Linked DNA regions of Homo sapiens. The protein of the gene in region 2 purifies or fractionates together with the protein of the main gene of each other region. This does not show direct contact. Each region holds a gene or a part of one and is shown on either strand. Other genes may lie near its edges.

Evidence for each region.
Region 1: the proteins of SCARA3 (region 2) and LRIG1 purify together in Homo sapiens (affinity purification with mass spectrometry; 3 studies listed by BioGRID and IntAct, with this or other methods). This does not show direct contact.
Region 3: the proteins of SCARA3 (region 2) and DEGS1 purify together in Homo sapiens (affinity purification with mass spectrometry; 3 studies listed by BioGRID and IntAct, with this or other methods). This does not show direct contact.

The regions. Positions count from the first base shown.
Region 1 is NC_000003.12:66,396,377-66,400,027, forward strand, and holds part of LRIG1 (leucine-rich repeats and immunoglobulin-like domains protein 1 isoform 1 precursor), read right to left. Parts: intron 2,666-3,651; coding exon 2,594-2,665; intron 1,808-2,593; coding exon 1,736-1,807; intron 1-1,735. UniProt on the Homo sapiens protein: Acts as a feedback negative regulator of signaling by receptor tyrosine kinases, through a mechanism that involves enhancement of receptor ubiquitination and accelerated intracellular degradation.
Region 2 is NC_000008.11:27,640,350-27,644,000, reverse strand, and holds part of SCARA3 (scavenger receptor class A member 3), read right to left. Parts: intron 1-3,651. UniProt on the Homo sapiens protein: Seems to protect cells by scavenging oxidative molecules or harmful products of oxidation.
Region 3 is NC_000001.11:224,186,231-224,189,881, reverse strand, and holds part of DEGS1 (sphingolipid delta(4)-desaturase DES1), read right to left. Parts: intron 306-3,651; coding exon 1-305. UniProt on the Homo sapiens protein: Has sphingolipid-delta-4-desaturase activity. Converts D-erythro-sphinganine to D-erythro-sphingosine (E-sphing-4-enine). Catalyzes the equilibrium isomerization of retinols.

The DNA.
Region 1 (3,651 bases), on a different chromosome or scaffold from region 2:
TCACATGGTGCATTTTCACGATTCCAACTCAAAGTGTGTTTCTAATCATCACTTGTGGAAATTTACCCAGAGGATGACTAAGTGCACAGTACAACCTGACTTGATCTGATGGAGAAAAAGACGACCAAGTGGAATTAACCATTTCTCTCATCTGAGGACTGGGCACAGGGCCGGCTCCAGCGAGGTATATGCAGCAACGATGGGAAACCCAGGCAGGAGACCGAGGCTGAGCCTCCAGAACCATGCAGAAGCACGCTGGAGGTCCAAGCTTCTGGAAGGGTCCAGTTCCTCCCAACTTCCCAAGGAAAATCTTATCCTCCTCCCTCCTTCTCTCAAAATACCTTCTTCCCGTTTAAATTGAATCAGGTATTTTTCAGTCCTGACATCATATCTGAAAGTTTCAAAGACAGAAAAGGTGAAAGAATTCCACAGTGAATGCTCCTGTGCCCCACCGCTTGTCTTCTACAACCAATGTTTCATTCCACTTGCTTTACTGCGAGTCCACCTCTGAGTCCAGCCTTCCCTTCCACGGTGGTCTGGAATCATCTCCTCCCCTGCTCTGGAAGGAGAGCCATGGAATCCTTTCTGTATGTTCCGTCTCACCCGACAGATGGAGGCAGAGCTGCTGAGGCTGGAAGAGGGAAGGCCCTGGGCACGGAGCAGCTGTCTGCAGAGCCCTGAGCTCCATGAACCCGTCACAGACACCCGCTCCAAGATCCAACCCTTGCAAGGACGGTATCTATTCAGCAGGCCTGAGGCTCACAGCATGCTGAACATCACAGGGCAAGTGCCCAGGCCACCTTCCCTCCTCACTCAGTCTGGTGTCACCCGGCCCGCTTCAGTTCCCAGCTATGGGGAATGCACCTCATTTCCCCAGTCCCAGCCTCCCTGCCCCAACTGAGGGTTCATCAAGAGTGGCCTCGGGGAATGGGGATGAGGTCAGGGCACAAAGATGACTGTCCTGTGGCATCTGCCATTCTGTCAGCACTTCTAGGAACCAAAAGTTACCCCTTCAGGGAACTGATATCATGGCTAGAACTTACTGGCTGTAGAATCAGATTCATGTCTAGCTAAAAAAAAAAAAAAAAAACCAGAAAGGAAAACTTGGGTGTTACACCTGAGGACCCAGACTAGCTCCCCTGCCAGAGTAGGATACAGGGAAGCTTTTCCAACCTTGTCACCCAAGAGCCCACAGTCCAAGTCCACAGTGGCAGCACCACCACCTGTGAACCGTGCCCAGAAAGCTTGGAAATGGTATGGGCAGACACCACTGCACCCCTAAGCATCCCATCCCCTCCAGAGCTCTGCCTTGCTCACAGCCCACCAGGCTCTGAAGTAGACCCTCTCAACACAGGCCTTTATCGTAAGCAAGCCCAAAAGATGAAAACTTGGCCCTGACATAATTGAAGGGGTGATTATCCACTTTATAGAGGAGAGTATATTTCACATTGCCTAGAATAGTGGTTAGCAAGCTTCAGCCTGCGGCCCGACTGCCTGCTTCTGTCAATGTGACTTTATGGGCACATAGCCACACCCACCTGCTTATGTAATGTCTATGGCTGCTTTCTGCTGCAATGATGCAATCAAGTAGTCATGACAGAGACTCTGTGGCCCACAAAATCCAAAATATGTACCATGTGAACTTTTAACAAGTGAGCATAATGCAATTGCAGAAGTTTCTTACTCTGAAAGTCTCCACTACCATTAATCAGACCCAGGGAATCCAGATACTTACAGCTCTTTAAGATTCTTCATCTTCACAAAGGCATCAAACTGGACAGATCTGATCGCATTCCCTCCAAGGTTCCTGAAACAGAACATACATTACTTATGCAAAGAAACCCTAGGTACACCTGAGGGGTTTTCAGGACAGTCCTGGTTTCACAGATGACCCACAGGGACTAGCCAGACCTGTGTCCTAACTACTATAAGTGGCTGTTGTTTCCCAAATCGCAACACAAGCCCATGGAATGACTCAGGAGCCAAGCCAGCCTTAGGGCACCATCAAAGCTGGGCTGAGGCCTGCTCAGCAAGGCAAAACCTTTCCCAACAGAGTTAGAGTCAAACTTGATTCAAAGAGGAAACAAACTAAGAATCACATACATGAGGCATCCTCCCCAGATGGCAACAGCATGACTGTCTCGGGTGGCTCTGTTCCCTTCCTCCCAGGGTCTCAGAAGCAACCACACCAAACTGGTTCAGCCCAGCACCTACTCTGCATTGTTAAGCTGCTTTAATGGAGGCAACAGGCTTGGCCAGGAGGAAGCGCGTTGGTGGAAGAGGCAATGAGGCCAGGGGTCCATGAAGGAGCCAGTGCAGGGGTTAGGCTGCGCAGCAGGAGGGGGGAGGGTATTTATCCAAATACCAACTGAATTAACTGGGAGCACATCCACTGGCCATATGTTCTGTAACTGTTCCTGGCATAGGCAACATAAAGGCCAAAGCTGAAGCTGACATAATGAGAAGGAAGCAGCTGGTGTTTCCAAATAGCCTGTTTCTCAGTTTACAAAGATGCGATTAAATTGCTAGCAGAACTCCCCGGCAGCCGCATTCAGCAGGCTGTGCCTCAGGGCAGGGCTGGTGAGATACTCACAGGTGCTCCAGGCCTTCCAGCCCCGAGAATGCTCTCTTAGCCACAGACTTGATCTTGTTTCCAAACAGAGTCCTGTAGTTTCCAAACATCCAGAAATTAAGGCCAGGGAAGGAAAGCGAAACAGGAAGGGTTGAGAGAAAGAAAAAGAAAAAGAAAACACACAATTAAGGTAGTGCTACCTGATAAGTCTGTCCAGTGAGGGGCAGGTGGAAAGCTGACCTGCGCTGAGATTACGGGTTTGAGGCACGCAGGCCTTCCCCTTTCTGAAATGAAATACTTTTATCTTTATTAGAATTTAATAGTGATGATAGGCTGGAATTGCATGTGCCGTCTGGCCTAAAAAAGGCCCCTCCCAGTGTTAGGCAGAAATCACCTTGTCTGGCCCAGTCTCTCTCCAAGGACCACCAACCCTTGGGTGGTGAAGTTTAGTGATGGAGAGATGAGACTGATTATGGTTTCAGTGAGAGGAAGCTGAGTCAAAAAAGGAAAGAAAAATCTTCGGAATTAAAACTGCTGACCATGACTGGGCATGGTGGCTCACACCTGTAATCCCAGCACTTTGGGAGGCTGAGGCAGGAGGATCACTTGAGCCCAAGAGTTTGAGACCTGGACAACATAGGGCAACCTTGTCTCTACAAAAACTAAAAAATTATCCGGGCATGGAGACACGCACCAGTAGTCGTAGCTACTTAGAAGGCTGAGGTGGGAGGATTGCTTGAGCCCAGGAGGTGGAGGCTGCAGTGAGCCATGATTGCGCCACTGCACTCCAGCCTGGGCAACATAGCGGGATGTTGTCTCAAACAAAAAACAAACAAAAACCCCCAAACTGCCACCCACTTCTGAAAAGTGCATTCTGGGAATAAAGCTTCCCAAAAGAGGCAAGAAGAGGACAGTAAAATAGGCATCCATCAAGCTGGCTCCACAGCTGTCTGCACCTGAGATGTCCTGGCAGCCAGCACACAGCCATGGTGAGCTGTGTCCCTGCCTACGAGAGGGACCCCTCAGGGCCTGCAGGAGATGCCCCAGTGCTTTGGCTCTTAAGCCAGACCCCAGACGTT
Region 2 (3,651 bases):
CTGACTCCACTGGGGTTGAGCTTGGTTCAGCTCTCCCTTTGGGGGTAGAAAATAGCCCGGACCTGTTAACCAACTGCTAACTCAACTGTGGTCACCAATGCCGGCTTTCTTTTGGTTGACCAAAAATGTGTCCTTGGTTCCCTCTTTCGCCTTTCTGGGACTGCATTCTTCCATCTGAGTCAACAAGGGGGAGAGATTCGAGGAACTGAATAAAAGGTCTTTCTTTGGGCACTTCAAGGAACATATTTTGATAATTATCTTCTGCAGGGTTCACAGAGTGGGTTTTCAAAACAGCCAATTGGATCGGTAAAAATAAAGATTTCAGAGTCTTCTCTGGAGCCAATGCTATATTTAAAGTGCAGAATAGCTATTAGTTTAAGGTTGGAGAACGCTATAAGTAAGGTTGCAAAATTGTTTTCATTAGAGCCCTTCCGCCACTACCCCCTCTCCACAGGCTTCCTTTGTGGGTTTGTCTGTAATCGGTTGGGAATCCGCCTGCCCGCTCAGGTCTCAAGACACAGGTCCTTTCCCTTCAAATCTTCTTGCTCAACAAGTTGTCCTTTTCTGCTTCCGTGGCTCTGCCAGTTTCTCTCCTCCAGCACTCGCCCCTTTTTTGGTCCCCATCCTCAAGCTCCTGCATCCCTAAAGCCACATCTGCTGCTCTGAGACAGGCTTCCCTCCCGGTTCCTGCTACCTCCACCTGAATCCCTTTGGCTGCCTCCCACCCTGTTCTTGGTAACCACAGAGGTTGTGGGTAAATCCCTGCTTTATCCTAAATCCCCTTTATCCTAAACAACTTTCTTGCCCTCAACTTTTCTAACTTGGACCCTATTCCAGGTGGTGCAATTCTTCATTAGATGAGCACGGCCCACTCTGCACAGACATTCAGCATCCTGGCCTTGCCCGCTAAAGGCCAATAGCAATCCCTGGTCATTGTGACAACCCCGAATGCCCACCCATTTCTAAATACCTGCTCGCAGGCTGGTGCTGCCTCTAGTTGAGACAAGAACCTAGGCTACTCACTCAATGCAACAGACTCCCCCCATTACTTACACACTGATCTCCTCTCTGTCCACAGCACCAACCCCCCCGACTCCCCTGAACCCCATGAATTCAGAGGGATGGGAGGGGTGGGAATCACTGGCTTTCTTTTCTTTTCTTTTTTTGTTTCTTTTTATAGACAAGGTCTTGCTCTATTGGCCAGGCTGGAGTGCTGTGGTGCGATCATGGCTCAGTGCCGCCTAGACCTCCCGGGTTCAAACGATCCTCCCACCTCAGCCTCCTAAGTAGCTGAGGCTACAGGTGTGTGCCATCACACCCAGCTAATCTTGCTTATTTTTTGTAGAGACAAGATCTCACTATGTTGCCCAGGCTGGTCTCAAATTCCTGGCCTGAAGTGATCCTCCTCCCTGGGTCTCCCAAAGTGCTGGGATTACTGGCATGAGCCACCATGCCTGGCCAGGAATCACCAGTTCTCTTGATCCCCGTTGTCACCCCTGATCCTGCAAATCCTACCCTGTCTCGCATGGGCACCCCACTTCCCTCCTCTGAGTTTCATGTTCCTTATGCGTAAATGGTGGGGAGATCGTCCGCTTCAATGAGCTGCTGTGAAAATCCAATGAGACGTATATGAAAAGTACCTGGTACATCGTAAATGCTTAATAAATAGTAGTAGCAGCCACTTTTATTAGGATTATTTTTCTATCCTATTCCAATTAATGCTGCCATTTATTGCCATCTCCCAACCCCCATCACTCCCAGGACCAATTTCCAACTTACAAGAAATCAGTGTTTCAAAACATATCCTATGGGACACTAGTCCCAAATTATTCTTTGTGAAAAAGGATTATTTGATCAAGTAAGTGTGGAAAACATGGCATACTCTATCGCCATCTTAGAGATTCACATTCACATAGTAAGCATTTTGAAAAGTCCTGCCAAAAAAAATAATAAGCCCATTTAAATCTGTGTTTAACTCCACGTTTCTCAGACTTATTTGGTCATGGAACTTCCTGCAGATCTTGAAAAATAAATGTATCTTTTAATTCTGGGACCTATGTTCAGAGGCAGAGGGACTCTGACTTTAGGGAACACTGTTCTGGACAATGACATCACCTGGATTGGATGAATTCTTCATTCTGTCTCCTGCCATCAACTTGAATGGAAGCAGCTTTTCTGTTGAAACTCAGGGCTCTGGACATGGGATTTACTGTCTCATCTCTACACATCCTGCCTGCCCTCTGGAGCTTAAGGCTTATTGCTGTTCCATCTGCTTGATCTCAAGCCCCTTGCCTTCTTCATCCCCAATGCACTCAGCCTTTCCTCGCTCTCCTTCCTCCAAGTTCTCATTCGCCCTGACCTCCAAGCCCAGCCCAGTCCCCAAGGGTTGAGTTCTGCCCCATGGAGCCTGTAGTTCTCTCTCCTGGCCATGGTCCCTTCCATCCTCAGCCTGCTTTCTTCGAATTGCACTAGAGAAGCCTGGAGCTGCAGGAGAGTGTCAGAGGGGGGCATGCATTTGGCTTCAGCCAAGTCCTGCCATCTGGATCCTCACTTCCCATTCCTGGGTTCCTCCTCAGGTCAGCCCACCTCATTCCCCAAAGATGAGCTCACCCCCTCCTTTTCTGAAAGGATCAAGACCATGAGGTTCCAACTTCTTTCTTTATCATCCACTAACTCTGTCCAGATGCCTACACTTCAAACCCAGTCTGGGGGAGGGATGGGGAAAGAGGCCTTCTCGTGCATTCTGAGTAGCCTGGCACCCTCTGTCAATACTGCAAGGGCGAGTGCCCTTTGACTCAGTAATCCTCCTTCTAGGAACTTCATGTTAAGAGAATAATTACACAATTAGGCCAAGGTGTATGTGTAAAGGTGATCACTGCATGCTATGATAAATCTGAGGGAAAATGCAAATAGCTAAAATGCCCATCTCCAGGGGATTGGTTACATAAATGCTCGTAGAGTCTTACTATGGGATGTTATGAAACCATTTTTTAAAAATACTGCAAGCTGGGTGCAGTGGCTCACGCCTGTAATCCCAGCATTTTGGGAGGCTAAGGCAGGAGGATCACTTGAGCCCAAGAGTTTGAGATCAGCCTGGGGAACAGGGTGAAACCTCATCTCTACAAAAAATACAAAAATTAGCTGGGCATGGTGGCATGCATCTGTAGTCCCAGTTACTTGGGAGGCTGAGGTAGGACAATTGCTTGAGCCTAAGAGGTTGAGGCTGCAGTGAGCCATGATAGTGCCACTACCCTCCAGCTTGGGCAACAGAGCAAGACTCTGTCTCAAGCAAAGAAACAAACAAACAAAAACAAAAGCAACAACTAAAAACCAGCACTAAGAACAAAAACGCTAAGTAATCGGGAGGCTGAGGAGGGAGGATTGCTTGAGGTCGGGAGCTTGAGACCAGCCTGGGCAACATAGCGAGACTTCATCTCTACAAATAATACAAAAATTAGCTGGGCATGGTGGCACCTGCTTATAGTCCCAGCTACTTGGGAGGCTGGGAGGATCCTTGAGCCCAGGAGGTCAAGGCTGCAGTAACCTACAATGGTACCACTGCACTCCAGCCTGGGCACAGAGTGAGACTATGTCTCAAAGTAAAATAAAATAAAAATAAAAATAACATGGATAGTGTAATCTTATCTACAT
Region 3 (3,651 bases), on a different chromosome or scaffold from region 2:
CATGTGATACCTCTTAAAGGAAATTGAATATGGAATCCCAATAGGAAGATTAGCAAACATTCCAAACCAGCGATTCCACATTGCTTTGCAGTTGCCAAAGGCAGCATTGTGGGCAATCTCATGAATAGCCAGAGTCATTGAGTGGTTAATGCAACTGCCAAACGCATAGGCCCCAAATATGACCCATTTCCAGTCCAAGTCTTTTACTATGTAAAATGCACCCAACTGGGTGAGAACCATCATAATTATAATCCATATCAAATTGGGATCAGGTTTCATCAAGGACTTTATCTCTGGATACTTTGCTGTAAAGAAAAAACAAAAAAACAGGAACTAAGAAAAGTATGTAATAGTTCACCAATTATAATTAAATTAACACCAATTAAACTAACACATTAAATTTGTTCTGTAAATCATATTCCCTTTACTAGAGACTTTAGTGGATATTTAATAACACAGGGAAGGATTCTACTAGTAAAGTTATGAAATATCATGTCACAATAATTTGAGAATTTATGCAGGAAAAATTAGCCTCAAAGTTTAGAAGTTCCACATTCTTTATATTAAAATACATGTTATTTCTGTGTTTAGACAGAGGTACAGCATTCTTACCTTATATAAAACGATTAAATTAACACATCTGACAAAGGATAGAATATAATATACATTTTGTAGTTACCCTAAAATCATGAAACTGGTATTCACAGTTTTCTCAGACAAATCAACATGCTCCAAGTAATTCTGTACTGAATTTTCCCAAAATTGTAATAGTATATAAAAACCAATACTACAGGCTACCAATATAATCAGGGAAAGAACAGTCCTTTCAACAAATGGTGCTAGACCGACTTGTTATCAACAGGCAAAAGAATGGATTCAGACCCCTACCTTACACCATACACAAAAATGAACTCAAAACAGATCACAGACCCAAATTTATAAGAAAATTATAAAACTCTGATAAGAAAACATAGAAATAAATCTTCATGGCCTTTGTGGTTTCTTAGATACTATAACAAGTACAAGTGACAAAAGAAAACAGAGAAATCGGACAGCATCAAAAACTTTCTGTTGCACATGATACTGTCAAGAAAGTAAAAAGACAATCCACAGAAGCGGGGTTATGTTTGCAAATCATGTATCTCATAAGGGACCTATATCCAGAATATATGAAGAACTCTTACAACTAATAATCCAATTAAAAAATGGGCAAAGGATCTGAACCCACTTTTCTCCAAAAGATACGGAAACAGTCAAGAAACACATGAAAGAGGCTCAACACCGTTAGTCATTAGGAAAGTGCAAACTGAAACCATAGATACCACCTCACACTCACTAGGATGACTATAATAAAAAAAGGTAGGTAAAAACAAGGATGTGGAGAAATTAGAACCCTCATACTTTGCTAGTGGGAATATAAAATGGTGCAGCTGCTTTGGAAAACTGTACAGCAGTTCCTCAAAATGTTAAACACCTGGTATATCCATACAAAGGAATATTATTCAGCCAGAAAAAGGAATCATACACTGACATATGCTATAACATGAATGAACCTTAAAATATTATTTTATTGAAATATTATTTTATTGAAAATATATTATTTTAATGAACCTTAAAATATTTAGAGACAGGGTCTACCTCTGTCACTCAGGCTGAAGTACAGTGATGCCATCATAGCTCACTACAGCCTCAAACTCCTGGACTCAAGTGATCCTCCTGCCTCAGTCACCCTAGTAGCTGGGACTACAGGAGCATGCCACTGTGCCCAGCTAAAATATTATGCTAATGGCTGGGTGCAGTGGCTCACACCTATAATGCCAGCACTCTGAGAGGCCAAGGCAGGAGGATCACTTGAGCCCAGGAATTCAAGATCAGCCTGGGCAACATAACAGGACCCTGTCTCTACAAATTAAAAAAAAAAAAAAATTTATATTATGCTAAGTAAAAGCCAATCATAAAAGATCAGGTATTTTATGATTTCATGTATATGAAATGTCCAGAATAAGCAAATCTATAGGCCACAAAGTAGATTAGTGGTTACCTAGGTAGAAGCAGGGGATATGAGGGACTGCTAATGAGTATAGGGTTTCTTTTGGTGATGATGAAATGTTCTAAGGTTATATGGTGGTGACAGCTGCACAACTCTGTGAATATACTAAAAAATACTGAACTGTACACTTTAAATGAATAAATCATGATAGTTGAATTATAATCTCAATAAAGCTATTGGCCAGGTGCTGTGGCTCACACCATTAATCCAGCACTTTGGGAGGCTGAGGCACAAAGACTGCCTGAGGCCCAGTGTTCAAGACCAGCCTGGGCAAACAGATTCTATTTCTACCAAAAATAAAAAAAATTAGCCAGGTGAGGTGGCACAAGCCTGTAGTCCCAGCTACTTAGGATGCTGAAGCGGGAGCATCACTTGAGCCCAAGAATTTATGATCACACCACTGCACTCCAGCCTGGGCAACACAGTGAGACTCTCTCTCAAAAAATAAAACATTAAAAAGCTGTATCATGTTAAAGTATAACAGTGAAGGAACCATTTCTTGTGATTTATTCTTTTTTTTTTTTGAGACGGAGTCTCGCTCTGTTGCCCAGGCTGGAGTGCAATGGTGAGATCTCAGCTCACTGCACCCTCTGCCTCCTGGGTTCAAGCAATTCTCCTGCCTCAGCCTTCCCAGTAGCTGGGATTACAGGCGCCCACCACCACACCCAGCTAATTTTTGTATTTTTAGTAGAGACGGGGTTTCACCATGTTGGCCAGACTGGTCTTGAACTCCTGACCTCAGGTGACCTGTCCACCTCAGCCACCCAAGGGCTGGGATTACAGCCATGAGCCACCCAGCCCAGCTCATCCTCACGAATTTCAAACAGATGCCTTGTAAATGAACTTTTAATGTGAACTCTAAATGTAAACTTAAAGTGTACAATTGTTGGTTGTTCTATCAGGCCCCTTCCCTCCCCCGCCAAAAAGTCAATACTTTCAGAAAGATCTCTTATCATTTGTGTATAATTTAAACAAATCTAAAGATTCTTTCTACAGGTTATTCCATCTCCCACCCTGAAACAGAACATGAGTTAGTATTTACACCTGCATGGAAAACATTGTACACTGTATTTTCATTGAGAAATATGTAGTCCTTCTTTTTTTTTTTTTTTTTTTTTTGAGACGGAGGCTCACTCTGTCGCCCAGGCTGGAGTGCAGTGGCACCATCTCAGCTCACTGCAAGCTCTGCCTCCCGGGTTCACGCCATTCTCCTGCCTCGGCCTCCTGAGTAGTTGGGACTACAGGTGGCTGCCGCCACGCCCGGCTAATTTTTTGTATTTTTAGTAGAGATGGGGTTTCACCGTGTTAGCCAGGATGGTCTCGATCTCCTGACCTCATGATCCGCCCACCTTAGCCTCCTAAAGTGCTGGGATTACAGGCGTGAGCCACCATGCCCGGCCAAGAAATATGTGGTCCTTTTACTTTCCCAGTGAAATGGTTCAGTGATAAGTCTGTGGGGGGAAAAAAGGCTCAGTGTGAGGTAAGTATCAATCAGCACCTTCTCACTTCCTTCATCTCTTTTTCTTGAGACAGTCTCACTCTGTTGCCCAGGCTGGAACGCGGTGGGGCAATCACGGCTCACTGCAGCCTCTACCTCCCCA